Homo sapiens: one gene and its partners. The protein of the gene in region 3 interacts with the protein of the main gene of each other region in a pairwise test. Each region holds a gene or a part of one and is shown on either strand. Other genes may lie near its edges.

Evidence for each region.
Region 1: the proteins of RAB22A (region 3) and RAB3GAP1 interact in a two-hybrid assay, tested with the Homo sapiens proteins (one study listed by BioGRID).
Region 2: the proteins of RAB22A (region 3) and ALS2CL interact in binary tests that used the Homo sapiens proteins (3 or more experiments, as listed by UniProt).

Annotation. Positions count from the first base shown.
Region 1 is NC_000002.12:135,047,115-135,057,047, forward strand, and holds the start of RAB3GAP1 (rab3 GTPase-activating protein catalytic subunit), read left to right. Parts: upstream 1-5,177; 5' UTR 5,178-5,193; coding exon 5,194-5,211; intron 5,212-5,315; coding exon 5,316-5,371; intron 5,372-9,933. UniProt on the Homo sapiens protein: Catalytic subunit of the Rab3 GTPase-activating (Rab3GAP) complex composed of RAB3GAP1 and RAB3GAP2, which has GTPase-activating protein (GAP) activity towards various Rab3 subfamily members (RAB3A, RAB3B, RAB3C and RAB3D), RAB5A and RAB43, and guanine nucleotide exchange factor (GEF) activity towards RAB18.
Region 2 is NC_000003.12:46,675,142-46,685,188, reverse strand, and holds part of ALS2CL (ALS2 C-terminal-like protein), read left to right. Parts: intron 1-1,141; coding exon 1,142-1,200; intron 1,201-1,340; coding exon 1,341-1,407; intron 1,408-1,862; coding exon 1,863-2,059; intron 2,060-3,094; coding exon 3,095-3,160; intron 3,161-3,590; coding exon 3,591-3,689; intron 3,690-3,781; coding exon 3,782-3,943; intron 3,944-4,647; coding exon 4,648-4,759; intron 4,760-5,901; coding exon 5,902-5,979; intron 5,980-6,799; coding exon 6,800-6,930; intron 6,931-8,166; coding exon 8,167-8,340; intron 8,341-8,450; coding exon 8,451-8,547; intron 8,548-8,786; coding exon 8,787-8,944; intron 8,945-9,212; exon of another isoform or gene 9,213-9,502; coding exon 9,503-9,571; exon of another isoform or gene 9,572-10,047. UniProt on the Homo sapiens protein: Acts as a guanine nucleotide exchange factor (GEF) for Rab5 GTPase. Regulates the ALS2-mediated endosome dynamics.
Region 3 is NC_000020.11:58,304,841-58,314,715, reverse strand, and holds the start of RAB22A (ras-related protein Rab-22A), read right to left. Parts: upstream 5,002-9,875; 5' UTR 4,740-5,001; coding exon 4,704-4,739; intron 3,674-4,703; coding exon 3,594-3,673; intron 1-3,593. UniProt on the Homo sapiens protein: Plays a role in endocytosis and intracellular protein transport. Mediates trafficking of TF from early endosomes to recycling endosomes. Required for NGF-mediated endocytosis of NTRK1, and subsequent neurite outgrowth.

The DNA of each region.
Region 1 (9,933 bases), on a different chromosome or scaffold from region 3:
CTTTGGGGAGTAAAAAAGTTGCAACATACAGTTTATCTAAAATGAGATGAAAAGCAGAGATTCGGCTTACCTGTGCTGTGTTTTGCTGAGGGACGTGGCACACAGTTGAAGAAACACCAAGCCAAACAGTAGCCAACATCATCCTAATTCATTGTGGCACTGATTTCTGGGACAGCTGTAACCCACACTTCAACCAGGGATCCATTTAAAAACAGCATAGATTCAGATTTTTTTTTCAGTGTTGTACAGCCCAAATAATTTTTCCTTTTAAATTTTGTCTTTAATTAAGCTGGTCCTGCATGCACAAACCCTTTAGTTAGCTGCAAATAGACTGCTTAGTTTACAGGTTGTCTCCTAGGCAACCATCCACTGTGCATTTAGCTTAGAGAATTGAAAGCAGGACAGTCTCATCCAGGAAGGAAAACAAGTTTTGTATGCTCTTCCAAGTTGTTGCTTAAGTGCTTTAAAACTACCAAACCCCTATGTACTTCCATGGTTGGCACAATTACTGTGATCACCTGATGCACTGAGACTTTCTCTAAGAGATCCATGCCTTTGTAATCCCCACAAGGTGCCAGAAGGGCCCCTTTCAAAGCTGCATATAGGTCACAGAGTGAGAATCCAATCGATTACCACCAAACTGATTGCATTCTTAGACTCAGCCTTGAGAAAGCGCTAGCAGACAGAAATCCTTACATTACAACATACTTCTTCTCTAGATATGCTTGTGATATTCTGAAGCAAAAGCTTCAGTAAACAGACTGCATTTTTGTCTGAGTCCAGTGGTAATAAACCCAACTGCAAAAGACTTCAAATCATGGACTATGAAAACATAATCATGAGGAAGTGGACACAGGGCACTCCATAAGGTCACCCGGCATTTGTGTGCTGCTAAATTCTTTTCTGCCACTTACCAAAGGATGCAGGGGTTTCTCTTCTAAGGTAGGGCGTAACATTATATATTCTCAACTGAATGGGGTACGATATTCTATCGCAATAACAACAGCTGACATTTATTGACTAGTTCCTACGTTAGTCCATAAAGGACATGATTAATGTCATTTAACCCTCATAACAACTCTATGGAGTTGAAACAATAAACAGCATCATTGCCACGTTACAGAAGATGACACTGAGGCTTAGAACTTTTGAGCTAATGAATGGTGGAGCTAGGGATTGAACCTAAGCGGCCTGGCCACAATGTTGCAATACTACCTTTACCATGCGCAAGCACGTACACACACACACACACACACACACTCTCTCTCTCTCTCTCTCTCTCTCTCTCCTTTAGTGGATGAAGACTTCAGGGTAAAAACCATTCAGAGATTGTTAGATCTACGTAAACTCCCTCATTACCAATTCAACTTCAAGCTGCTTGACACCAATTTAAGCACACACAGGCTATTACTCTGTTTTGCTTCCTATGCTCTACTTTGCTTCTACTCCCATCAAGGTGAGTACTCTCTCAGCCTAACAGAGGAAGGTGCAAGTACCGTAGTTTCTGACTTTTAGGATTTCTGCCAGGTTATCCTAGGGTTCCAGCTTGTCTGCAATCCATGAATCTTTAAATTGGCTTCTCAAAAAGTAATCCTGGCCAGATGTGGTGGCTCACACCTGTAATCCTAGCACTCTGGGAGGTTGAGGTGGGTGGATCACCTTAGGTCAGGAGTTCCAGACCAGCCTGGCCAACATGGTGAAACCCCATCTCTACCAAAAATAAAAAAATTAGGCCAGGCGTGGTGGCTCACACCTGTAATCCCAGCACTTTGGGAGGCTGAGGTGGGTGGATCACGAGGTCAGGAGTTCGAGACCATCTTGGCTAACACGGTGAAACCCCGTCTCTACTGAAAATACAAAAAAAATAACCGGGTGTGGTGGCAGGCGCCTGTAGTCCCAGCTACTCGGGAGGCTGAGTCAGGATAATGGCGTGAACCTGGGAGGCGGAGCTTGCAGTGAGCCGAGATCGCACCACTGCACTCCAGCCTGGGCGACTGAGCAAGACTCCATCTCAAAAAAAAAAATTAGCCGGGTGTGGTGGCTAGTGCCTGTAATCCCAGCTACTCGGGAGGCTGAGGCAGAATTGCTTTGAACCCAGGAGGCGGAGGTTACAGTGAGTCGGGATTGTGCCACTGCACTCCAGCCTGGGTGACAGAGTGAGCAAGACTCCGTTCCCACCCCCCCCAAAAAATGTAATCTTCTGGCTATGCGCAGTGGCTCACGCCTGTAATCCCAGCACTTTGGGAGGCCAAGGTAGGAGGATTGCTTGAGCTTAGTTGTTTGAGACCAGCCTGAGCAACATAGTGAGACCATGTCTCTGCAAAAAATAGAAAAAATTGCTGGACGTGGTGGTGGGCACCTGTAGTTTCAGCTACTCAGGAGTCTGAGGCAGGAGGATTGGTTGAGTCCAAGAGTTTGAGGCTGCAGTGAGCTATGATCATGCCACTTCACTCCAGCCTGGGAAACAGAAAGACATCCTGTCTTTAAACAAAAAAGGAATCCTCCTTTTGTCTCTCATTTTGAGATAGAGTCATTCAAACCATTCTCTTTTTCAAGAAACTCAATGTTTAGAAATAGTGGAGGGATAGGCATACAAAACAAGGACAATATCAGGCTGCCCTAGGGCTGTGTCAAAAGCTCTAAGGAAGCATGGAAGGGGAGTGTCTGACTTCCTGGGTTGAGGGTGGGGGATGTATGTTTGCCTAGGGCTGCTTGAACAAAATGCCACAGACTGGAAGGCTTAAACAACAAAAATTTATTTGCTCACAGGGCTGGGCGCCGTGGTTCACACCTGTAATCCCAGCACTCTGGGAGGCCGAGGAGGGTTGATCACCTGAGGTCAGGAGTTTGAGACCAGTCTGGCCAATAAGGTGAAATGCTGTCTCTACTAAAAATACAAAAATTAGCTGGATGTGGTGGCACATGCCTGTAATCCCAGCTACTCAGAAGGCTGAGGCTGGAAAATTGCTTGAATCTGGCAGGTGAACGTTGCAGTGAGCCAAGATCTCACCACTGCATTCCAGCCTGGGTGACAGAGCAAGACTCCATCTCAAAAAAATATTTTTTTATTTGCTCACAGCTCTGAAGACTAGAAGCCCACGACCAAGGTATCAGCAGGTTGGGTTTCTCCTGAGGCCTCTCTCCTTGGTTTGCAGGTGGCCACCTACTCTCTGTGTCCCCACATGGCCTTTCCTCTGTGTGTGCACATCCCTGGTGTCCTAATCTCTTCTCATAAGGACACTAGTCAGATTGGATTAGGGCCCACTCTAGCGGCCTAATTTTAACTTAATCACCTCTTTAAACACCCTGTCCATAAATACAGTCACATTTTGAGGTACTAGGAGTTAGGGCTTCAACATATGAATTTTGAGTGAGAATCCAATCGATTACCACCAAACTGGTTGCAAATACAAATAAGCTCCTAACAGGGGGCAGAGAAAGTCTTCACAGAAGAGCAAATATCCAAGCTGAAACTTGAAGGACAAATTTTACCAGGTAAACTATAGACACAAGGACATTGCAGATTCTAAACGACAGCATGTCCAGAGGAAAGAGAAAGCACAGGATGTCGAAAACATTGTAGGTGCATGTTAAAAGAGGCTGTCTATTAAAAGAGAGTGGCAGACACAAAAGATGTGCTGCTCAGACCTCCCTTAAAGAAAGACTCACTGCCCAGCTGTAAGGCGTGTGGTTAGATGAACAGCCTACGGCTGTTGGGTTTATCAGGTTTGTCTAACTGTTGAGCCAAGGACCTGCTATTCTTGGAGTGCTTCCTCCAGCCAAAAACTGAGCAAACAGTGATAGCCAAGGCCACTGTTTTCTTGGGGAGATCCTGGCCAATGATTGACGGAGCAAGGCAGTAGTACAAGGGGCTACGCATTTCCTGATGCATAATTTTTGCCCTAGCACTTCCAGTTGGACTTCAGAGACTTCGCCAGCTTGGAATTGTAGTGTCTGCTTTTTTAGAGCACCAGTCTGAAAAAAAAATAGTGAAAAAGCAAGCTGCAGAGTGGGAGAAGGTATTTGCTACATATATAAACAATATAAAGCTCAGATGCAGAATATATATAAATAACTTGAAGGTGTTAAAATAAAGACAAGGCCAGGCACAGTGGCTCACACCTGTAATCCCAGCACTTTGGGAGGCCGAGGGGGGCGGATCACAAGGTCAGGAGATCGGGACCATCCTGGCCAACATGGTGAAACCCCATCTCTACCAAAAATACAAAAATTAGCTGGGTGTTGTGGCGCATGCCTGTAATCCCAGCTACTCGGGAGGCTGAGGCATGAGAATCACTTGAACCCAGGAGGCAGAGATTGCAGTGAGCCGAAATCGCGCCACTGCACTCCAGCCTGGCGACAGAACCGAGGTGGGCAGATCATGAGGTCAGGAGATCGAGACCATCCTGGCTAACACGATGAAACCTCATCTCTACTAAAAATACAAAAAATTAGCCGGGCGTGGTGGCGAGCGCCTGTGGTCCCGGCTACTCGGGAGGCTGAGGCAGGAGAATGGCGTGAACCCGGGAGGCGGAGCTTGCAGTGAGCCAAGATCGTGCCACTGCACTCCAGCCTGGGCGACAGAGCAAGACTCCGTCTCAAAAAAAAAAAAAAAAAAAAAAAAAAAAAAAAAAAAATGAAGCGTTTGTTGAACACCATGTTGCTCTTCCCAGAAACCAGGTAACTAGTATGATTTTATTTCAGGACAATCAACTGAGCAACTTCTTGCAGGGTCAGGGGCAGAGGGTAGAAGTGGTATTACAGCACCTAGTTTATTGCCTTACAATCAATAAATAGAGGGTGAATGAAAAGAAACCCAATAGTTAAAGTGTAAGCTAATTGGTACTAACTACAAATATGGGTTGAATGAAAACAAACCCAACATGCTTTAGGTTTTTTAATACAATCTTATCCACATGAGTTTAGGGTCTTGTCCTATCACCTTGGCTTCTGTTCCCTTTCTGTATTCATCACAGGAAATTTTCAAGTTTTATGAAACCAGCTAGAGCGGAGTTTTATTAACCAGCTGAGGGCGGACTAAAGACTTAACAGACCTGGGCGAAGAAGCAGCACTCCTACTTACTAGGGCAAGACTCATGAACAGGGGGCGGGGGCTCCGGGGGCGGGGACGCGCCCCGTTCTCTTTCGCTCTTCTTCCCGGCAGCCTTAGCGCCAGGCCCGGCGCTCCTCAAGATGGCTGCCGACAGTGAGGTGATTTCTTTGCTCCCTACTTAATCCTTGTCACTATCTAAATTCGTTCCTCATGTCTTCGCCTTGGGGCTTAATTTCTTTTTCTCTCCTTCCCCTTCCCGCAGCCCGAATCCGAGGTATTTGAGATCACGGACTTCACCACTGCCTCGGAATGGGAAAGGTGAGTGAATCGCATTTTTGGTTACCAGCTCCCATGGGCCCTGGCGTCCCCTAGCCGCTTCCCTGACCCCAGACACACCACAAGTGACGCCACTTGTGCGGGAACGGTAATACCGTGGGTCCCGGGTCTCCTCCCCCAGTCTTCTTTGGTCAACCGCAAGCCTCTTCCGCGTCTCGCGTCTGGCAACACCCGGCCCGCCCCCGTCAGCCAATCCCTGAGGCTCAGGCTCTCAGAAAGTTTTGTTTTCTCTCCTGTCAGACCGCTTCCCTTAGACTTTGGTTTTCTGGTTGTTACCCACTCGCAAGAAAAATTTCCGAGGCTGCAACAACCGTTCCGGTTTTCATTACCGTTTAACTCATTATCGTAAGCAGTAAACTTGGTAGGTTGTGCCGCACCTCATCCCGTGTACGTTGGTATACCCTTTTCAGGAGGAAGTCTTTCTTCAGAGTATTGGTAGTTGTCCATCTGTCACACTCCCACCATCTCCATGCTGTCTTTAATTTTTTATTTTTATTTATTTTTGGAGACAGAGTCTCAGTCTGTCCGCCCAGGCCGGAGTGCAGTGGCGAGGTCATAGCTTACTGCGGCCTCGAACTCCTAGGCTCAAGTGAAGCTCCCGCTTTAGCCTCGGGAGGAGCTGGGACCACAGGCACGCGCTATTACGCCCAACTAATTTTTTAAAGATCTCGCTGTGTTGCCCAGGCTAGTCTTGAACTCCTGGGCTCAAGCCTGGGCCGCCCAAAGTGCTGAGATTACAGGCGTGAGCCTCCGCCCATCCTGTCTTTTAGAATAACCTTTTTAAAAAGTCTGCATATGGTTTTGGAATGCTTTGATTTAAGTTGTTACATTAAAGTGGGTACTGTGCCCAGGCTTCCTGTGCCTGTCAAATTCAGATGAACAGCTGTCTGGGTGAAACTGTTCTATTACTGAAATTAGTTGAAAGCCAAGTTTGTGGAGGAGTGATAGCTTAGATCGAGAAGGTTTCTGTTAAGTGTCACAGAAACCCTTCAGTTTCCTGGGTGTTGAAGTCAGTGTTTACGCTGTTACAGCATTTTATAATCTTTCTGGTTGGGAGAGGAAATTTGTGGATGTCGTGTCATTAGGTGGCACAGGAAAATATAAAAGGTCCTTGTTGGAATAATAGTTAGACCTGTGGTACCCTTCATAAAAGTGTCAGTAAGACATAACCACACTGGCAAGACTTCATTGAGTAGGTACTGGGTGTCCAGAGCTATATACAAAGGGAAAAGCAGAAACTTGACCCATATATTTTTAAAAAACAACAAACAGCAAATAGTTAAAATGTAAGCCAGTTGGTACTACCTGTAAAAATAATAATTAAAATAATTATTATTTAAATAGGGGTGATATTGTGGACTACAATAGTTGGAGATATTTTCATAGAAAAGATAGGAAATGAGCTGGGCCTTGAAAGTGGGAAGTGGTTGGTTAAACATGAGAATGGACTGACATGGGTAGAGACATAGGTGAGAATGAATCTTTGAAGGGACTGAATGAAGAAATATATCTTCACTAGAGTGAAGACTGTCTATTGAAGGGAAATAAATAAGGTTAACAAGGAAGACGGGATTGGGTTATGGACATCTTCCCAAACTAAATACAGGAATCCAGATTCAGTATTCCTATGACCAGTGATTCTCATACTTTAATGTACATCAGAGTCTTAGATTGCTGGGCCCCATCCTCAGAGTTTCTGATTCTGTAGGTCTGAGGTGGGACTGAAAATTTTGCTTGTGTAACACGGTCTCAGGTAATTCAGATGCTGCTGGTCAGGAGACCACACTTAGAAAGAACCACTGCTTAAGACAATAGTGAGAGACCCTTCGTTTTAGAGTGGCCAGGTGATATGATGAAAGTGGTTTTAGGACATGATGTAGAATAATGGTGGGAGACTTAACTTGATTCATAATTAGGATGGTGATTTGTGGACTGGAATACAAAGGGAACCTAGAAGGGAGGATTGTAACATATTTCAGAGAAGATTTAGGTAATAAACTTGATGATACGTTAAAAGTGGGAAAAATCAAATGTGAACTGTAGTTTTTTGCCTGTAAGAATGAATGTAAGGAAGTGTCAAAGTGAGAAGATTTGAACCTGTTGATTTTGAAATAATTTGATGTCTTGAAGGTAGTTAGAAAAATGTAATTCAAATCTTGGAGGGTGGGGTAGGGAAACATCAGTTTTGAATGGAAAAATGATCACTTTCCCCTAGTTAAAAATATCCTGAAGTGGAATATTAAGTCCTTTAGCTTTGCATATGGAAATAATTATTAACACCGTTATAAGAACTATTGCAAAGTAGAAAATTTGGTTTTTGGCTTTTACACTGTAGTGTGCATTTTACAATTCATGAGAGAAAATGTTAAGACTTTGAAGTCTCAAACCTTGAGTTTAATTTTAAATGAAAGATCTTGTGAGTACAATATGTTATGAACTATATAGATAATTTATTGAGAGAACTGTATAGAAGCCCATAACTCTTTTTATCATTTGTTCATTGACAATATTTATTGAATCCCCATATGTCAAGCACAGTGCACATTACGGATTTAGGGATGTGGTGGTTAGTAAAACAGGTACGGTTTCTGCTTTTACTAAATGTGCAGTCTAGTGCATTACAGACACAAATCAAGTAATACAAGTCTGTAATTATGAGTTTATGTAAGAGCTAGAAAGGGAAAGAAACCTGGTCTTATAAGAGCCTATAACAGAGGGACCTAATATAGAATAAGGAATCAGGAAATGACCCTTCATTTCCTGAGAGCTTTTAAGGAAAAAATTACTTAGTTTTTCTAGTCAAATCTCAATACTTGTAGGATAAAGTCCAAGTCTCTTAGCTAGTACTGATAGAATTCATTATTCATACAATAAGTATTTTAAGACATTCCTGGCCGGGCATGGTGGCTCATGCCTGTAATCCCAGCACTTAGAGAGGCTGAGGCAGGCAGATCACTTGAGCTCAGGAGTTCAAGAGGAGCTGGGGCAGCATGGCGAAACCTTGTCTCTACTAAAAATACAAAAGCTAGCTGGGCATGGTGATGTGCACCTGTAGTCCCAGCTAGTCAGGAGGCTGAGATGGGAGGATTGCTTGAGTCCTGGAGGACAGAACTGCAGTGAGCTGTGATTACACCACTGCATTCCAGCCTGGGTGACAGAGTTGAGACCCTGTCTCAAAAAAAAAAAAAAAAAGACATTTCTTCTTTTACTGTAAAAACTATATTTTAAATAGTTTTCACTATAATAGTAATACCTTATAGTAGAATAAAAAATAAAAATCACCTGTAAACTTAACACCAGGAAATAACTGCTGTTAATTTTTTGACATATTTCCTTTTTTTTTCTTTTTTTGAGACGGAGTCTCGCTCTGTCGCCCAGGCTGGAGTGCAGTGGCGCGATCTCGGCTCACTGCAAGCTCTGCCTCCCAGGTTTACGCCATTCTCCTGCCTCAGCCTCCCAAGTAGCTGGGACTACAGGTGCCCGCCACCACGCCCGGCTAATTTTTTGTATTTTTAGTAGTGGCGGGGTTTCACTGTGTTAGCCAGGATGGTCTCGATCTCCTGACCTCATGATCCGCCCGCCTCGGCCTCCCAAAGTGCTGGGATTACAGGCATGAGCCACCACGCCCGGCCGACATATTTCCTTCTAACGTGTGTTAAAAACTTTTTTGGATCAAATATTAATATTTCTTTTTCTTTTTCTTTTCTTTTTTATTTTGAGACAGAGTCTCACTCTGTTGCCCAGGCTGGGGTGCAGTGGTGCAGTCTTGGCTCACTGCAACCTCTGCCACCTGGGTTCAACCAATTCTCCTGCATCAGCCTCCTGAGTAGCTGGGATTACAGGTGCCTGCCACCGCGCCTGGCTAATTTTTGTTGTATTTTCAGTAGAGACGGGGTTTCACCATCTTGGACAAACTGGTCTTGAACTCCTGACCTCGTGATCCACCCGCCTCAGCTCCCAAAGTGCTGGGATTACACGCGTGAGCCGCTGTGCCTGGCCTTTGTATATTTTCTTTTGATTGACATGATTTTTATTGGGTGCATATTAGTCCTCTGAGTGGATTAATTTACAAGTATTTCCTGCAGTTGGGCATTAAGGTAACTTCCAGTTTTTTTAGCTTCGTAAATATAGTATACATTTCATGCAAATTTTTGCTTGCCTGTGGATATATTAAATTTTTCCTCTTTGGTAAACATGTAAACTTGTTTCTAGAGCACTGATTTTCAAACCTAGTAATTGTCATTTGACTGACCTCCCCCATGAATTAGTGTATGAATTGATACTGCATTTAATTTTAAAGAGGAATTAGTAAGAAGCCTCAGATGAATCATAGATTTATTATTACTATCTTAAAACATAATTATTAGTTCATATTAGTTCATAATGTCACTGAAGGAAAAAATCTGTTGCCTTTCCATACAGTTTGACTAGAATTAACTCTAGTACTCTAGCAGTACTTCCAGGTGTTTAGAGAGCAATGTTGCTGTTAGATTGCATCATACTTAGCTTATATAAGAAGTCAACTTAGAGTAAGAATAATTCTT
Region 2 (10,047 bases), on a different chromosome or scaffold from region 3:
TCCCATTGTACTCAAATGAGAGAGGAACCCCAGACAGAAAGTCATGGGTGACTGAGGGGTGACTAAGGAGGGCTGGATGAGAAGGCTTCTAGAGAAAAGTACCCTACAGGAGCAGTGCCTGGGCTTTCAGCATTGTGGAAGTCAGAAGGGAGCCAGGCCTGAGGCTGGGAATTGTTACATGGCCAGTCACCAACTGTGGTTCATCCATCCTGAAATCATGTTGTCCTGGTGAGGTCCACAGCACAGTCTTCTCTACCCCTTAGAAGGTTGGCCTGGAACCCCCTTGCAGACAGGTGGCCGGGGCCTGGCAGGAAGCTGCTGCCCAGCCTAGACCTGTGTCCCCTGAAGCCTGATTTTGGGATTGGTTCTGATTTAGTTTGAATTCCCCTCCACTCCCAACTTCACACTCCACTCCAGGTACACTGATGAGCTACTGTCCCTTCCCTGTGCTAGCCCTCTCCTGACGCTGGACCTTTGCACATGCTGTTGTGTCTGGTGGGCCATCTCTTGTCCCTGGCCTGCGGCTGGCAAGCTCCTCCTCACCCCTCAGGCCTGGGCCTCCCACGTCCTCCCCATTCTGGTATGGAGCAGTGATTGGCCTGACTGGGCCGGGTAGGAAGTTGCTACACAAAATCTTCCCATAGGAAGGGGCTTTTTTTCTGGCTGTCAGAGCAGGATGGCATTCCAGGTAGAAGGAACAGTATGAGCAAAAGTTCACAGTGAGGAGAGGTTGGGGCAAGCTCATGAAGGTGTGATTGTGGAGTGGCCCTGATGGCGTAGTGGTCTGTGAGGTCTTAAATGTTAGGCTCAGCAGTGTCTCAACCCCCAGGCAGTAGGAGCCATAGAGAGGTTTCCAGCAGGGGTTGACCAGGTCCCAGCTTCATTTGTAGACCACTCTGGTAGCCACAGGGGGCTAGAGGCTGGTTCTGAGTTCCTGGCCAAGCTCTGGGGTAGAAAGGACATGGAGGAGCTGTCCCTGAGGTGGGGAGCAAGCCAGAGGGGAGAGGGACTCAGTCCTGGACATGCTGGGCAGAATAGCCTTGGTGGCCACACAAGGTTGAGCTTGGGGCAAGCCTTGGCCAGAGGGTAGGTGAGCATCTGGCCTGGGCTCTGGATGACTCCTGTGTCCATCCTCTTCCAGGGCCACAATGTCCACACCTTTGATCTGAAGCTGGTGTGGGTGGATCCTGGGCAGGACGGGTGAGCAACCCCCTCGGCTGACACCCCAGGCCTTCTTCCCTTTACCCCCATGACACCTGCCCACACCCTGGGACTCTGGCTTGGGCCCCTCCACCCTCCTGGACAAAGCTGGGGCCTACTCATCACCTCCGTCTGTCTAGGTGCACGTTTCACCTCCTCACGCCCGAAGAAGAGTTCTCCTTTTGTGCCAAGGACTCCCAGGGCCAGGTGAGTGTGGGTGAGCTGTGAACTGCGGGAGCGGGGTCAGAGGACAGGGTAGGAAGAGGGCAGAAGTATGCAACCCTGCAGGGCCCCACAGGAGTGCCGGCGAGTGTCTGGCAGGCTTCTGGGGACCTGGTCAGAGTAAATCGGGGTCAAGAATTAGAATGTCAAAAAGAACAGGGTATTTTTCTTTCTAAAGACAGAATTGGGTCCTGTGTTGATCCCTGCCCTGAGGTCTTGTTTGGCCCCTCTGGGCAGGCCCTGAAACTGCAGAGGAGGATCTCAGGTTGGGTGGAGGGCCCAGAGAGTAGCAAGAAGCAGTTGAAGGGTCCCCAAGGTGACAAAATGGAGTAGGAGGTGGAGGGTGGAGGGGGTGGTACCTGGAGCTACCCCAGAAGGCTTCCTGGAGGGAAAGCCTCCAGCAGCAGTGATCCCCTTCCCCATGTTCCCCCTCCCACCAGGCAGTCTGGCAGTGGAAGGTGACCTGGGCTGTTCACCAGGCCCTGCATGGGAAGAAGGACTTCCCCGTGCTGGGGGCTGGCCTGGAGCCCTCCCAGCCTCCCGACTGCCGCTGCGCAGAATATACCTTCCAGGCAGAGGGCCGGCTCTGCCAGGCCACCTACGAGGGCGAGTGGTGCAGGGGCCGGCCCCACGGCAAGTGAGTGGCTGGAGCTCTGGGTGGCAAGGTGGGACTCCCTGGGGGTCTGCGGGGCAGAGAGCAGCACACAAGCCTAATTGTCTCAGGACATGTTCCAGGAGCGGTTACTCTCTGTGGACAGTCAATTCTCAGAGTCCCTCTTAAGTCCTCTTGGACTGGGCCTGGCCCAGAGACAGTCTGTGCCAAATAAAGTCTTGATGGTGACGCTAGAGGACAAGGGGCAGCAACCACGCGCTGGCCTTACAGCCTGCAGGTGCCATTCCATTCTTAGGAGGGTGGGAGAATAATTCTCACATCTGTACCTCATTGTCTGGCAGTGTTGAAATGGCTTGCACACATTCTATCTCCATCGGTCCTCATGAAGACGCTCTGTATGGAGTGCTTTTACCCATTTCATAGGTACAAACACTGAGGCCTAGTGATGGGCATAACCTGCCCAAGGTCTCAGGGCAAGTGATAGGGTGAGCCGGCCTCAATCACAGGTCTGTGTGACCCCACAGACAGGCAAGCCTTTATAGACCATGTGGCCCCACCCCATGCCACAGCTGGGAAAACAGACCCAGAGAGCAGAAGGGACTCACAAGGCTACACTCTCAAGCACCTCCGCTAGTTTCTGATACCCTGCCTCCTTTCAGAAAGGGCTCGAGAAGACTTATGAACAAAAGGACAGAAAAAACACAGAAGTGGGGAGGAGGGTGGTAGAAACCCCACAGACCAGCATTAAACTTGAGCTTGATTCTTAGCTCTGAGCTTCCTGTTGGTCAAGGGAAAAAAGGGAACCTAGATGTCTCCAGGGCTTTCCTTATGGGATGTGGTGAGTGTGCCCCATGAGGCTGCTGGTACAGTTGGGCCAGGAGTAGAAAAGGGCTAAAGGGGCTTTCTGCAAGGAATGTTCGGAGCTCAGACAAGAGGGCTGGGTGGGTGCAGGGAGCCCAGTCCAAGGGAAGAGGAAGGGAGGGCGTCTGAGAAAGTAGGTGGCTGAGGTTGCTGAGGGGTGGGTAGGCCTGAGGCTCGTGAACCTCCACTGTGTTCCAGGGGAACCCTGAAATGGCCGGATGGGCGGAATCACGTGGGGAATTTCTGCCAGGGCCTGGAGCATGGGTAAGGCTGGCTGGGGCTACTGCTGGGAGGCGTGCAGTGGGCTGAAGGGTGCTTTCCTCCCCTGCTGTGGTCACCAGCCCGGCCCCATCCTGAATTCCCAAACCTCAAGCAGGAACTTAGAGACAATCCGGTCCAGCCCCCGCCCACTGTACCAAAGGGGAACCGGGGGCCTGAATAGGGGGCCCGTCTCAGCTCGAGGTCACAGAGGGAGTGGTACAGGCCAAAAGGTGCTCCAAGGTGCTCGGGACCAGGCTGGAGGGAGGGGTCCTGAGAGGGGCCCTTTGAAGGATAGGAAGGCTGAGGGCCTCTGAGAGTCTCCCTGTTGTCTGGAAGGCTCCTTGGGGGCAGGGATACTCCTGGGTGGCATGGAGTAGGTGTAATGGGCGTCTCAGGTCAGGGCTGATCCCCACCCCCACAACCATGCTGTCAGCTTCGGCATCCGCCTGCTGCCCCAGGCCTCTGAGGACAAGTTCGACTGTTACAAGTGTCACTGGCGAGAAGGCAGCATGTGTGGCTACGGCATCTGTGAGTAAGTGACCCTGGCTGGGGGGTTCATGGGCTGGGCCCATCCTCTGGGCTGAGCTCCATGAGGCAGAGCTCGTTGTTGATGGCCCTCCCCAGGTACAGCACCGACGAGGTGTACAAGGGCTACTTCCAGGAGGGCCTGCGGCACGGATTTGGGGTCCTTGAGAGTGGTCCGCAGGCCCCCCAGCCCTTCAGGTACACGGGCCACTGGGAGAGGGGCCAGAGGAGCGGCTATGGCATTGAGGAGGATGGTGACAGGTGAGCGCCCTGCAGCCACCACTCCCAGGACGGAGGGGTGGACCGGGCCCTCACAGACCAGATTGTTGCAGGACACAGGCTCCTGTTTGTCCCCCACTGTGTCTCTCTTAAGCCCCTCACTTCCCCTCCAGTCCCTCGGTTGCTGCGGAGGCTCAGGCTGAGCGAATCTTGGTCACGCTGACTGCAGGGTCGCCCCCGCCCCTCACCCCTCCTCATGGTGTTGGAGAGGCATTTCTGACCCCCTGCTCTGTCACGTCTAAAAACTGCAGCCCTTGCTGGCTCTCTGGGCTGTGTGATAAAGCCCTGGATCCTTGGCCTGGCAATCACAGCCTCGCCTGCTTCTCTGACCTCACCCCAGCTGCGTCTCCTGGGCACCCCTCCAGCCTTTCTGGACCACTGAAGTCCCCACGTATCCATCACATGCTCCTACCTCCATGGCTTTGCACACACTCCTATTCCCCCTGTCCTTCCTGCCACCTCCACGGAGAAGCCTCCCAGATGCCCTTCCCAGGCTGCCTCCCTCCCTCCTCCATTCTCTATTCCTCTTGGGGGTCCTGACCTCTCTGGCACTGTGTCTGTTGAGTGGATTCAGGTGATGTCACTGCCCCTTATCTGCACTCCCTGCCGCCCCGTGCCAGCAGAGTGCCCAGGAGGTACATGGGAATGAGTCTGATCCAACTCTGGCCACATTCCTCTCCTTCCAGAGGTGAGCGCTACATTGGCATGTGGCAGGCTGGTCAGCGCCACGGCCCAGGGGTCATGGTCACCCAGGCAGGTGTCTGCTACCAGGGCACCTTCCAGGCGGACAAGACGGTGGTGAGTGGAGTGTATCCTGGGCTATCCCTCTCTTTGCACCCCACTCCCGCTGGGGGCACTGAGGCTGAGCTGAGGCCTTTCAGGGAGGGATGGGAAAGGGGGCTGTGTTCCTGGGTGCTGGAGGGAGCCAGAACCTGGGCAGGAAGCCAGCTCTACCACCCACCTCCCCTGGCCCTGGCCAATCCCTGCTCTGCCTGACCTTGGTTTCCCCATCAGCAACTCAGGTTAAGAATACTTACCATAGACTCAATGAACTAACAAGAATGGAGCACTTGCTCATGATGATGCATTAGCTGACATTCACAGAGTCCTAACTTGACACCTGGCTCTGGGCTAAGCTCCCACCCTGATCTTGTGGGATCTTCCCAAGAGCCCTGCAGGTTGATGTCATTATTATCCCTAGTGTGTCCCTAGTGAATGACAAATGAGAGGTTCAGAGGGATCAGAGGACCTGCTCCATGTCACCTTCACTGAGTGGCAGAGCTGACACTCACACCCTGGTCTGCTGAGCCTGGCCGCCGAGCCTGGGACTCCCATGTTTGCCTCACCCATACCCTTCCAGGTGCCTGGGGAATGTGGGGCTCTGGCCTGATGGCTGTTCCTGTTATTATGGTCTGTTGGTTTGTTTATGCTCTACTTCATTCTCGAAAGGATTGAAGGAGGCCTTCAAGGAAAGAGGAAGACAAGGGGAAGAATAAGTACACAAAATAGATTTGGAAATAAGCCGAACACTAATTGTAACCCTTTCGGCTCTGAGCTTCCCGGCAGCCCATGGGGCAAGGGAGCCTGGTCAGCTCTGCCGTTCCCAGGGCCAGTGACAAGCAGGGAAGCAGGGATGTTTCAGAGAAAGCCCCACATTTCTTGAGCTCCCAAGGGCTTCCTGAAGAAGCCGCTGGGGTGAGGAGCCAGGGCGGAGGGTGTCATTTGGGGAAATCCAGGGATGGGGTCCTCGGGGCTGGTGCTTAGCAGGCCAAAGGCTAGAGTCCCAATTAGGTACAGTCCTGTGGGGCGTGATGAGGCTCAGGGCCCCTCTCGCCATGTGTCAGGGCACATCTCCCTTCTTTGGCCATCTCTCTCCACCCTGAGTTTCCTGGCCCTTCCTCACCCACCCTTTCTACCCTCCCTGGCTTCCTCTCCCCAAGGGCCCGGGCATCCTCCTCTCTGAAGACGACTCCCTGTATGAGGGCACCTTCACCAGGGACCTGACCCTCATGGGGAAGGTGAGGACCACTGAGGCCCCCCTCCACACCCTGCCAAGGCCTTGGTTGGTGTCTGTAATCTCCCCACTTAGACTCAGGGCTGGGGGCAGGTAGGGGAGGGCCTGTCCCACCTCCCTTGGAGCCAAGGAGTGGGCACAGCAACTCCACCCTGCCACAGAGTTGCGATTGATTCTGGAGTGAGGTGAGAGGGGACCAGTGGCCTTGCCTGCTATCCAGAGGGTACCGGTGGTCTCCTGGCTGTGTCCCTCCATACCCTCCTAGTTCAGAATACACGCCCTCCACCAGTACCAGTGCCTCGAGCAGCTGTCCCTGGAGGCACTGGCCTTCAGTGTGTGCCTCCCTGAGCTAACCCAGGAAAAGGCAATGTGTCCCCGCTGGAGCCTTTGGAAATGTAGGGGCTGTTTTGGTTTCATAATGACTGGAGCAAAGGGGTGGAGATCAGGTTGCTATGAATGGGACAGCCTCATGTGGCAAGACACCGCCCTCCTCAGGCGTTGCCTGTCCCTGGGCTTACCCCCACCCCAGCCCCTCAGTGGTGGTCTCCCCACTCTTGCCTGTGAGTCCCTTCTGCATCTCTCTCCTCTTCCTACCTCAGAGGTGAGCGAGCCCCTGAGACGTGGGCACAGCTGTTGGTGGGGGGCTCTGGCAGGCATAGAGGATTATGAACCCCTCAGCATGGAGCAGCTTGAATGGATGGCGGGAAGCCCATTCATTAGTCCTTAGCCTCTCTGACACTGATGGACAGGCTTGTGGCCTGTCATGATTGGCTGGAAGGGTAACTGGGCAGACAGACATCCCTGCTCCTTCTCCTGGCTCCCAGGGCAAGGTCACCTTCCCCAATGGCTTCACCCTGGAGGGCTCGTTCGGCAGTGGGGCAGGGAGAGGACTGCACACACAGGGTGTGCTGGACACGGCTGCCCTCCCACCAGACCCGAGCAGTACCTGCAAGAGGTGAGTGCCTGGCCCCTCTGGCTCTGGGCCTATCTGGGGATGTGTCTGTGTTTCCATCCCAAAGACTCAGGTCTCCTCAGAGGGGCCTTTTTGCACCCACCTCTTAGCCCTCTAGAGAGTTCCGAGAGCCCAGGGTGTACAACTCCAGTCAGAGACTCTTGGGATCAGGGGCTGTGTGGATATAATGCGGTACACCACAAAACTGGAGAGAAATATTATTTGTAGGCTTTGCTTAGGTCCTGCTTTTTTTTTTTTTTTGTCTCGAAAGGATACAATACGGTTTACAAACCAAACATACAGGAAAAAAAAAATAGAAAATAAGAGCATATGTTAACCTTAAAAGAAAGGGATATGTAGACATGTCCTACGGCATTTACAACTGATCATTGAGCCTGGCTCTGAGTTTCCTGGCAGCCAAGGTAAAGAAGGAAACTTGCTAAGTGGAATCACAGTCATTATCAAGGAGTATTCCAGAGAAGGATAGACTTCTTTTCCTGTAGGAACAGAGTTCCTCCTTGGAAAACAGTTGCTCTTGTTGCGTCTGTTGAGGAAGACTCAGTATTGCACAGAGGAAGGAATCTGTGTGGGTGGCAGTTCTAATGGGAAGTGGTCCCAGGCAGCATTTCAGATGTAGGGAGGGAGTACAGTTGACTACTTGGCCCGCTGTCCCTGCATGCTGCTTCTCCCTGACAGCAGGAGCTGGGAGTGGACAGCAATCCCTAGGGGCAGGCCCCAGCCTGGGTGTGAGTGTGGGCTGCGTGTAGCCTACGAGCATGACACTGGAGTGCAGGGCTCCATTAGACATGCGCAGCCAGGCCCCAGCCTGTTGGCCAGGGCGGGATCAACCACAGGAAGGAACCAGCTGTAAGGGAGGGCAGAGGGGGATGTCTTGGAGGGGAATCCCAGACTTTGGACACTGGTCTCTCTTGGACCAAGACCCCCTCTCTGGCTTGGCCTCCAGATCTGCCCACCTTTCTGTCTCCGTCTTTCCAGGATTCCATATGCTTCTGTCTGTCTTCTCGTCGCAGGGTAGATTCTCTGTCCCTTTCTCTGCTGCTCTTCCTCCTGGAGCCGTGGAGGTCAGCCCCCTCTGCATGGTTCAATCCATCCACCCTTCTTGGGGCTTGATCCTGGGCCAGGCTCATACCCCCACCCCTCCAAGGGCCTGGGCAGAGTCCTGCCTACCTCAGCTCCATCTCTCTCTGCCCCATCACCCACCCTCCATCCCCATCGCAGGCAGCTGGGCGTGGGTGCCTTCCCCGTGGAAAGCCGCTGGCAGGGAGTCTACAGCCCCTTCCGGGACTTTGTGTGTGCTGGCTGCCCCAGGGACCTGCAGGAGGCCCTGCTGGGCTTCGACGTGCAGAGCTCCAGGGAGCTGCGTAGGTCTCAGGATTACCTGTCCTGCGAGAGGTGAGGCCGGCTGTGTGAGCATGCACAGGTTAGGGTGGGCTGGGGAGGGCTTCCTGGGGGGAGGGGGCTGGGCCGAGGTGTGGGTGAGGGATGCTGTGTGTGGTGCCCAGGACCCACCCTGAGGACAGTGTGGGCAGTATGGAAGACATCCTGGAGGAGCTGCTGCAGCACCGGGAGCCCAAGGCCCTGCAGCTGTACCTCAGGAAGGTGAGAGCCCTGCTGGGGTGGCCAAGGGGGTGACATTGTCACTGTCCCTGGTGGGGAAGGGCTCCCATTTTTCATAGCAGGGTGCTGACTGAAGGGGACAGGCCTGTGGATCCCTTGTCCTCAGAGGACCTCAGTGTTCTCGTGTATGAGATGGGAGAAGTGTTGGGAGGCTGGTGTGGGCATGCTGTGCTCCAGACCCCAGTGCTTAGTCTCTCTCTGTTGCCTATGCACTGGCCCAGGCTCTGAGCAACTCACTGCACCCCCTGGGAAAGCTGCTCCGGACACTGATGCTGACCTTCCAGGCTACCTACGCAGGTGTCGGGGCCAACAAGCACCTGCAGGAGCTGGCCCAGGAGGAGGTGAAGCAGCATGCCCAGGAACTCTGGGCTGCCTACAGGTGGGCTCGGTGGCAAACGGGACAGCTACTGCCCTGTGACACTAGTGTGCCCTTTCCAGGCATCAGTTCTGCCTTGCATTTGGGAGGAATGCCAAGTGTCTGATTCAACAATGAACCAGAGGCTTGGTCAGTGTGCAGCTGCTGAGCAAAAGGGTTAGAGGGTGGGGAGGTGAGAGCAAAGGCCCAGCTGCAGCCCTCAGCTAGAGTCCAAGACCCAACCAGGCGCTGGGCTGACTCTGACCGCAGGTGCACTCTCACCCCACTGTAGGCTGAGCTTGGCCCTGGACTCGGAACACACCTGCAGTCCCAGGCTGGGCTGTGACCCCATGAAACACTGCAAATAGAAGCCTTAGATGCTATAGTTCCTTCTGCTGCTGGATTCTCAGGCTAACATCCTGGAGCTCCAACCTTCTAACTTCTGTGGTTTGAGAGGATGAACCCTGCAGGCCATGTCCACAGTTCTGAGAGGCCACCTGCTTTTGCCTTTGTTGACTGGTGGTAGAACTCCAGTTCTGTGGCAAGGGGCAGCCACACCATTTCTCTCTCATTGACTCACAGGGGTCTGCTGCGAGTTGCCTTAGAGCGCAAGGGCCAGGCCCTGGAGGAGGATGAAGACACAGAGACAAGGTGACTGGCGCAGGTCTCCTTGGGGCCTGCCGTGTCCAGGGAGGCCTCATGCGTCTGCTCCTAGGACCTCCCTTGGGGAAAGAGGTGCTTCTGGGGAAGTGCTGGGCATTCACTCTATTGACCAAACATTGTGCATTGATCGTTTGTGGATTAGAATGACCCATGACCTCTGTTCTGTGAGGAACCAGGGAGGGGGCACTGCTACAATGCATTGAATGCATCTTTGTTCTAAATGTATGATCCCAATCTCATCTTTCGCATGCAGAAGGTGAGTAGCTCCCCGAGGCACCCTCCTCTCCCTGCACACAGATGGGGAAACCGAGGGCTGGTAGGGATGAGCCTGAGGTTATACAGGAGTTAGGTGGGCATGAAATTTGTTTCCCCCAGTCCCTGGAGCAAACCTTACAATTTGCCTTTAGATTCTAGACCTGAAAGTGTTCCTGATCAGAGAGGCCTTCCTGTCACTGCCTTGCAGG
Region 3 (9,875 bases):
GTGTGTGCCATCACATCTGGCTAATTTTTGTATTTTTAGTAGAGACGGGGTTTCACCATGTTGCCCAGGCTGGTCTCAAACTCCTGACCTCAGGTGATCCACCCGTCTTGGCCTCCGAAAGTGCTGGGATTACAGGTGTGAGCCACCGTGCACAGCCAACTTTGATTCTTAAACTTAATCCATTCATCTTTCAATATTTAAATGTCAGTGCTGCTAGGTGCTTCACACCTTTACTGATCACTGTAGGAGTCAGTTATCCCCACAGGCCCAGGTCAGGTCCCTGTCACATGTTTTCATAGTACTGCATATTTCTCCTTCATAGCACAGAAAAGGGTTGAATAAATCATTTCTGGCTGGTCGCAGTGGCTCATGCCTGTAATCCCAGCATTTTGGGAGGCCAAGGCAGGCAGATTACCTGAGGTCAGGTGTTTGAGAACAGCCTGGCCAACATGGTGAAACCCTGTCTCTACTCAAAATACAAAAATTAGCTTGGCATTGTGGCGGGCAGATTCCCAAATGTGCGCCTATAGTCCCAACTATATGGGAGGCTGAGGCAGGAGAATCGCTTCAACATGGGAGGCAGAGGTTGCAGTGAGCCGAGATCGTGTCATTACAATCCAGCCTGGGTAATAGAGAGAGACTCAGTCTCAAAAAAAAAAAAAGAAAAAGAATAAATCATTTCCTGTACACTAGTCATAATGTAGCTTCTTGTAGGTAAGGTCTACGAGGACAGAAGTCCATTTTGTCTAGATCGGGGTCAGCAAACTTGCTCTGAAAAGTACCAGATAGCAAATATTTTTGGGTTTGTGGCCCATCAAGGCTTAGTTGCAACTATTCAAGTTGGTCATTGTAGCCCCAAAGCAGCAAGACAGTAAGTAAATAATTGGGTGTGACTGTTTCAGTAACTCTTTATTTACAAAAGCAGGAGGCGGGCAAAAAGGCCACAGTTTGCCCACCCCTGGTCTAGGCACCAGCACCCAGTCTAGCACCTGGCATATAGCAGGCACTCTATGAATAAAGAAAACTACCAAGAAAAGGCCATTTGACTTTGGCTATTAGATGGAAACTGGTACCAGGGGAAGGTGGTTTTAGTGGCATGGCAGGGAGGAGCTGAGATGACGGAGGGCTGAAGAGTGAGCAGCAGTTGCGGAAGTGGTAACTTCTCTTTCAGGAGTTCCACCATCTGAGCAGTAGGTTGGGGAATGGGTGCTCTTGTGGTGGAGTGGGGTGGATTCGGAACCTGTGTGCAGGCTATGACAAGATGATAGGGCTGAGGAAGAAACAGGGTAACTCATGAAGAGGTGGGGCTCCAGAGCTCAGGGGCATGTTTGGGGTTGGTCACAAAGGAGGAAGCCACCTTCTAAAACTGAGGAAAAAGAAACAAAAAAAGGCAGAAGAAAGAAAATGAGGAGAAAGCCTTGTATGCTATTTTCCCTGTGAAAATGTGAGCCAAATCTCCTGGTGCAGAGAGTGGACTAGAGGCAGCTCAGGAGCCACAGGCATCTGGCAGATTGGGAGCTACTGGCAAAAAGGGAACAGTGGACACTCAGGATGGGGCGTGCCTCACCAAGATGCATGAAGCTACACCCTTCACTTTTCTCTCTTCTTATTTGAGAGAGCACTTCTAGCCAAGGTGGTGTCTGGGTGTCTTGTGGATTTTAGGTTTTCAGCTCTGACTCAGTGTGAAGTGTATCACTCACTGAATCACCAGCAGTACTTGCTGTCACTTCCCAACACTTCACTTTCCCATGCAGGTAGGGACAGGCAGGCCCTGAGAAGGATGGGGTCATGTTTTACATGTGTCATACCCAGCTCTTTCTTAAAGGACACGGAAAAGCATTTTAATTGCAGAAACTTATTGGTGAATTTCATCCCCATGCCTTCAAATGTGTAGGAGACCCACAGGGTTTAAAAAAGCAGATAGGCGGCCAGGCACGGTGGCTCACGCCTGTAATCTCAGCACTTTGGGAGGCCAAGGCAGGCGGATCACGAGGTCAGGAGAGAGAGACCATCCTGGCTAATACATGAAACCCCGTCTCTACTAAAAATACAAAAAAAAATTAGCCAGGCATGGTGGTGGGTGCCTGTAGTCCCAGCTACTCGGGAGGCTGAGGCAGGAGAATGGCGTGAATCCAGGAGGCGGAGCTTGCAGTGAGCCAAGATCGCGCCACTGCACTCCAGCCTGGGCAACAGAGCGAGACTCCACCTCAAAAAAAAAAAAAAAAAAAAAAAAAAAAAAAAAAGAAAACCAGCCGGAGTAACATGGTGCAACTCTATCTCTACTAAAAAATACAAAATTTAGCCAGGTGTGATAGTGTGCATCTGTGATCTCAGCTACCTGAGGTGGAAGGATGACTTGAGCCCAGGAGATTGAGGCTGCAGTGAGCCATGATTGTGCCACTGCACTCCAGCCTGGGTGAAAAAAAAAAAAAAAAAGCAGACAAAAAATATTGAACACATAGGCGAGGTGTGGCAGCTCATGCCTGTAACCCCAGCACTTTGAGAGGTTGAGGTGGGCAGATCACCTGAGGTTAGGAGTTCGAGACCAGCATGGCAAACACGGTGAGACCTTGTCTCTACTAAAAATACAAAATTAGCTGGGCATGGTGGTGGGCGCCCATAATTCCAGCTACTCAGGAGGCTGAGGCAGGAGAATCGCTTGAACCCGGGAGGCAGAGGTTGCAGTGAGCCAAGATTGCGCCATTGCACCGCAGCCTGGGCAAAAAGAGCGAAACTCTGTCTCAAAAAAATCCATAAATAACCTCTGACAGCAGGAGCTCATAATTTCTCAGGGGACAATCTTATGGCAGTTTCTCTCCTGGGCTGTAAAATATTTCTCTATTAGTCAAAGAATGATCTGCATGGAGCACAAAGGCCAATTTTATCCTAATGATGGATAACATAGATTTTTTCTTTAAATGCTGGAAACCATTTGAGGGTTTGATGATTAAAACTAGAGCACAGCACCTATTTAGTTTTATAAGGTTAACATAATATTAAAGCCTATAAAACACAACTTCTTATGTAGTCAAAGGATTAGTATTGCAAAATGAAAAGTTTTCTTATAGCGTCAAAAACATATGAACAATCAACTTTACTTATCCATAGAACCAGAGAACTGAAAAAACCTTCCATTTCAATATGAATTTATTAATTTATTATTACTACCAGTACAGGAATGTGTAAGGGTTCAGATCTCAACCTACTACTTTCAGGAAGGACAAAAACCATTTAAATGTCTTTTACTTGATATGCCTGAAAGAATAGCACCAGGATCTATTTTCATCTGCCTTATTTCAAGGTGTAATTGCTGTTGATATTTATAGACCGAAGCTTCTGTGTCTGTTCTAATAATTAGTAGAACTCCAATTCATATTTGCATTTTGAAGTTCTCACCCCCAACAAGTCCGAAGATAATTTTCCTAAAATACACAGATCCTCACTGGACTCTTTCAAGTCCTTCCAGAGATGATGCGAACCAGCGACTCAGAATTCAATGACTACAAAGCGCAGGGCCTACACCTGTAACACACTATGTATTTGGAAGGATTTTCAATGCACCTTTAGATGTGTATCAAATAAAAGTCTCTTACCCTATTGTTGGGTTGATGTTTGGATCAAAACTGTCTTCCACAAACCGCCACACAATACTCGATTTACCTACACCTGTATCCTGAAAGAGAACGAGATGAGGGACTGAGAAAAAGTTTACCTTTTGGCAGACACCAAAAACTACTTTGTGGCATAAGTTCAGGATTTTAGAAAAATCACCCTAGACGTGTAAATTTTATAAACGGAGGAACACAAAAGCGGTTGTCATAAAAATTCAGTAGAGTAATTAGGAAATTCCAACTGTACTAAAAGGGAGAGGTTTTTGCCGTTAAGACAGATTAGGACCTTTTGAGAGACCCAAAGTTTCTGCTTCGTGTAAAAAGTAACAAGTCCACTTGCTTTTTAACATATGTTAGTAAACTTTGAACTCCTGAGTTACCTCTGAGTAATCCCTGATGAATCCTAGCCCCACCCTATTTGGGGGAATAAAGATTAGTTATTGGAGTTCCTGCCGATCTTTAAGGCAGAAACTCTGGAATGACAGCATCAATTTCAGAAAGAAGGCTTTGAAATGGCCAACACCTTGTCTTTCCTGACAAGACAGGAAGCTGAAGCTTCAAACTAGTCTTTGGGGCTTCCTGATTTGAACACCCCTTTTCTCCACAGGAAGAGTTACTTGGCAAAGTAACTCTTTGGACAAGTGGCAGGGGTATCCCACAAGTTCAAAAACACCCAAGAGACAAAGTAGGCTAATGCTGCTTGTAAAACCTAAAGACCTGTTATTGGTTTTACTTTGGAAGACTTGGCCAACTCCCAACTAATACCTTGGTAAGTTGGGAGAAAACTATTTAAGAACCTCTCTTAACCCAGATGCAATAGAGAGGCAAGGGGGGGCTGTTTGCTCTTTGTGGGGCGGGAAGAGTCCACGGGCTCCAGGGAGGGGAAGGGGAAGGGTCCCTTCGGCCTCCAGGACCTTTTCGAGAGTGCAAGAGGTGGGCGGGACGGCTCCCGAGCTGGAGGGAGGGTCCACGGGGCTGGCAGACAGCGTCTTGGACGTGGGAGGGGGGAAGGGATGAGGGGACAGGGGGGATCCGGGGTCCCCGCCAGCCCAGCCTCCCGTGGCCCTCCCGGCCGGACCCGCCGCCACTCACCCCGAGCAGACACACTTTGAGCTCCCTCAGCGCCATGGCCCGGGAGCCAGGGGCGCGGGCCCGCCGCCGCCCTAAGTTGAGAAGGGAGAGGCCAGGCCCAGCAAGAGCATCCCCTGGCGCCGCTGCCGCCGCACGGCCCAGCCCCGGTCCGCGCAGAGGCGGCTGCCGCCCGTCCTCCGGCCGTAGGTCCGGCCTGTCCGCTGCCAGCCGCGTGGGGCCCGCCTTAGCAGCCGGGACGCCGCCGCGGCCTTCCGGGAGCCGCCGCCGCCGCCATCTTGGGACGCCGGCCGCGTCACCTGACCTCCCCGCCCACCTCGGCAGCCACCTTCGCTGAGAGGGCGGGGCCGGCCGGCCGGCGCGGATCGGGGGCGGGGCCCGAAGCCGACGGCCCCGCCCCTGTCTGCAGGGCCCCGCCCCTGTCTGCAGGGCCCCGCCCCTGTCTGCAGGGCCCCGCCCCTGTCTGCAGGGCCCCGCCCCTGTCTGCAGGGCCCCGCCCCTGTCTGCAGGGCCCCGCCCCTGTCTGCAGGGCCCCGCCCCTGTCTGCAGGGCCCCGCCCCTGCCGGTCCCGCCTCCATGCCCATCCCAAGATGGCGGGTGAGTGGGGCTGGGCTCGGGGGATGCCAGGGGTGCCCCTCTCTCTCTCGCCCCGTGACCACCCCGCGAGGCCGAGGGGCCCCTGCCCGACCCCGTCCCCTCTCGCCGCAGCCCCCTGGTAACTTCTTGTGTGTTTCTTGGTTTTCAGAGATCCCCCTGTACTTTGTGGACTTGCAGGATGACTTAGACGACTGTAAGTAAGAGTTGGGGCACCCCTGTCCCTCCCTGGGACCCTCTCAAAGAATTCAGAGTGCACGAAGCGCGGGGCGGGGGAACCTCAAGCCAGGCACTCCTTGTCGGGACCAGAACAGCGGGACCCCCAACTGCCTAGATCCACTGGTGGCGGTCCCTCCTCCCTGGGCGGGGCGGGCTGAGGGTGGGAGCCCTTCCCTTCCCTCGGGGGAAGGATTTTTGTTGTTGGGGAAACTTTGGACTCCCTGTCACTTCTTTTCTTCCTGCGCCTGCAGCTGCCGTGGGATGGGCGGAGGGGGTAGTCCCAAGTCCTAGTCGACCCTGGGCGGGCGGGGGGTCCGCCACCTGGGAGGTGGGTGACTTCCCTCTCAGGGCCTTGCCCTTTTCCTAGGGACTTTTTAGGACTGCTGGGGGGTTTGGGAGGTCCCCCTCTCGGTGTGGCCGGTCACGGAGTTGCACGGACTTCTCAAGTGTCCTGGCCACAAGCCCGGCTCCATCTCTTATCCCATGGAGCCCATTGGCCCCCGCATTTCTTGGGTGGGACCCTTGTCCCTTCTTGCCCTCTTTTTTGGAATCATGTTAAGGGCTGGTAGCTGGGGGAGGTGTCATCTTAGAAATCCAAGTTCGCATTTCTGGTGAAGGAAGGAAGCGTTTTCTCTCCTGTCAAGAAACTTACTGAGCAGCTATTTGCTCTGGGGGCCACGTGTTGGGCTCCGAACCTGCAAGGATGTGTTGAAAACAGCTCTACACGCAGGGAGCTCACAGGGTGTGGGGAGAGCCTACTTGTAAACAGAAAATTACCGAGCACCGGAGTGCTTGCTGGTGAAGAAGCCCTATATAAATCATCCAAATAGCTAACATTAATTGGGGGCGTACTGTACGCCAGTCATATACAGTACTTCCTCTCATCTTTCATTCCACATCTTCAGGTTTCCTAATAGTAAGAGTTGGTGTTTACTGAAAACTTACCATGGACCAGACAGCGTTAAACTCTTTTTTTTTTTTTTTTTTTTTTGAGACGTAGTCTTGCTCTGTAGCCCAGGCTGGAGTACAGTGGCACGATCTCGGCTCACTGCAAGCTCCACCTCCTGGGTTCACGCCATTTTCCTGCCTCAGCCTCCCAAGTAGCTGGGACTATAGGCGCCCGCCACCACTCCCGGCTAATTTTTTGTATTTTTAGTAGAGAAGGGGTTTCACTCTGTTAGCCAGGATGGTCTCGATCTCCTGACCTCGTGATCCGCCCACCTCGGCCTCCCAAAGTGTTGGGATTACTGGCGTGAGCCACCACGCCCGGCCCAGTCTTAAACTCTTTACACACATTAACTCAGAAGGCGCAGTTTCGGCTGGGTGCGGTGGCTCAGGCCTGTAATCCCCGCACTTTGGGAGGCAGAGACGGGCAGATCACTTGAGTCCAGCCTGGCCAACATGGTGAAACCCTGTCTCTACTAAAAATACAAAAATTAGCCGGGCTTGGTGGCGCGCGTCTCTAATCTTAGCTGCCCGGGAGGCTGAGGCAGGAGAATTGCTTGAACCTGGGAGGCAGAGGTTGCAGTGAACGCCACTGCACTCCAGCCTGGGCGACAGAGTGACTCCGTCTCAAAAAAACAAAACAAAACAAAACAAACCAACAAGGGGCAGTTTTGTTAAAGTAGCATAACACTTTTGAAGGGGTAAAGCAAGCTGATAGTTAAGAGCCCGGTGTCTGTGGAATCAGATGGCCAAGAGTGAAATCCCGTATCACTGTTTACTGTCAGTGTGATCCCAGGCAAGTCGCTGTACCACTCTATGCCTCAGCGACCTCATCAGTAAAATGGGCATTATAGTGGCCCACCTCAAAAGGCTTTTATAAGGGATTAAATGAATAAAGGATTTAGCACAATGCCTAGTATGTAATAAACAGTTGGTAAATAATGGCTGCTGTTACCGTTATTCATGTGATCATTATTAGTAGTTATTTAACACTGTTGAGCCTGGTACAGTATAGATCCAGGTTTACCCAGCTGAATGTTTCAGCCGATGGGCATGCTCAGATTGAAGGAGTTGTATCATTTCCGTTGATACAACGGATAAACAATGTTTAGTTGCCATGATGGTGCTTGTCATTCATAGATGTGGTATTTGGTCTGACTGGAAAGCTATTTTCTAGCTGCTTCAGTTATCTAACCACCCCAAAACTCAATGGCTTAAACCAACAGCATTTGATTTCCCACAAATCTGTGAGTAGACTGGGTGGTGCTTCTGCTTAATGTGGTTTCAGTTGGGGAAGTCCGAAATGATGTCACTTATGTGGGTGGCATAGGTCCTGGCTGTTGGCCAGGACTTCAGTTCTCCGCGAGGTGCCCTTTCCACTTGGCTAGGTCAGCCTTCTCACAGTATAGTGGCCACAGGGTAGTTGCACCTCTTTTCTGACGGCTCCCCTCCTTCAGTCCTTTTTCACCTATGTATGTACAAAAAAGGAAGTAAGGAATTATATAGGAAAAAATTATGATCTTACTTTGGACAAATATTTGAACAAATGTTAGGTGTTTGAGACTTGTGATTATAAAGACTTAAGTACTCTTCAGCAGACAGCTGAAGACTTGCCCCAATGAGGAAGGAAACCACCGTTATGGCTCTGAACTTAACCACACCTTGGGTAGGACAACCTTGGCAGCCTCTTGGGGGCTTCCTGTTTGGGCAAGGGTAGGAGCTGTGGAGTGCTGTACCTTAGGAGTTTATAACATAATTGATCTGTACGGGAGGGCATGCTCATTCGTGTCGCCCTGCTTCTACCCCTACACCTCCCCATGGTAGTATTGGGAGGTATTATCATACCATTATTGGCAGAAAGAACCCTGAAGTTTTATCCTCTACATCCTGGCTCTCTCACACCTGTAGCTGTGTTACGTTGGGTGGACCACTCATCCATTCTGTTCAATTCTTTGGAAAATGGCATGAGAATGGGAGCTGCTTCATAGGACTGGTGTGAGGGTTAGATGGATAGCCAGAAAACATTCTAGTCTAGTGCTTTGTAAAGTATTCAGTGATTTTATCATCATCATCATCTTTGCTGGATTTTTATGTAAGAGCTTATGATTCAATGTTAACAGCTGCTACTCTGTGAGGTAGGTGGGATTATTCCTCTTAACAGATGAGAAAACTGAGAATCAGGTTGAGTAACTTATCCATTGTGGCACAGCTCATGAATGGTGGAATTCACAGTCAAATGCGGTTCCTTCTGCTCTTTTCTTCTTTTTTTGAGACAGAATCTCACTCTGTCGCCCAGGCTGGAGTGCAGTGGCGTGATCTTGGCTCACTGCAAGCTCCGCCACCTGGGTTCACGCCATACTCCTGCCTCAGCCTCCCGAGTAGCTGGGACTACAGGCGCCCGCCAACACGCCTGACTAATTTTTTGTATTTTTAGTAGAGACGGCGTTTCACCATGTTGGCCAGGATGGTCTCGATCTCCTGACCTCGTGATCTGCCCGCCTCGGCCTCCCAAAGTGCTGGGATTACAGGTGTGAGCCACCGCGCCTGGTCTGCTCTTTTCTTTTTATTCCACCACATGGATCAATCTCATAAATATTCTTAACCTAGGGGATAGGAGATGGATGTCAGTTTGGGTGGTACTGTGACTGTTGTCCTCCTGGGGCATTTGTGTCTAAATGATGCGATGCCTATTTAGACTGTAGGTCCCTTGGGGTAGGGACACAGGCCATCCTTTCTATAATCCAATGTCTCGCATTATCTAGGTGCTCAATTAATGTTGTTAATGTTAACGATAACGAATTATGAGGCTTTTGTCTGATTTACTTTGTGATTCTTGATTATGTTTGGCTAATTTCAAAAGGGAGCCATAATGAATGGATGTCTTATTTTTTAAATCATTCAGAGTCTTCAGGCCATTGCAGCACAGAAGAGATTTCATTTCAGAGAATTGGCTTGCTGAAGCAATCTAAATTTCTTCTCTTGAAAGCGGAAAGTGTGTGGGATGGCCTGACATATTGGTTTCCATGTTGAATTACACATGGAAGGTGGAGCTGTATGTCTATGCCTAAGCAGCTGCAGGCCTATGAATGTCTAGTTTTGCTTATAGCATATGGAGGCTGAAGAGGTGTTATTGTTGATAAGGTTTGCTTGGCCAATTAGAATTTAAATGTGTGTCAGGGATGGGTGAGTAAAAAATGAGGGGCGCCTATTGCAAATGTAAAGAGAGCTGGTGAATAAAAAATGAGGGGAGCCTATTGCAAATGTAAAGAGACCTAAGAGACCTATCAACATAAGACAATATGTGGTCATATTTGGATCTTTAGTTGAACAAATCAACTATAAAAATACATTATTGAGACAGGGAAAATTGAGTTGGACTGGGTATTAGATAATATTAATAATTATTTTGTTGGGTGT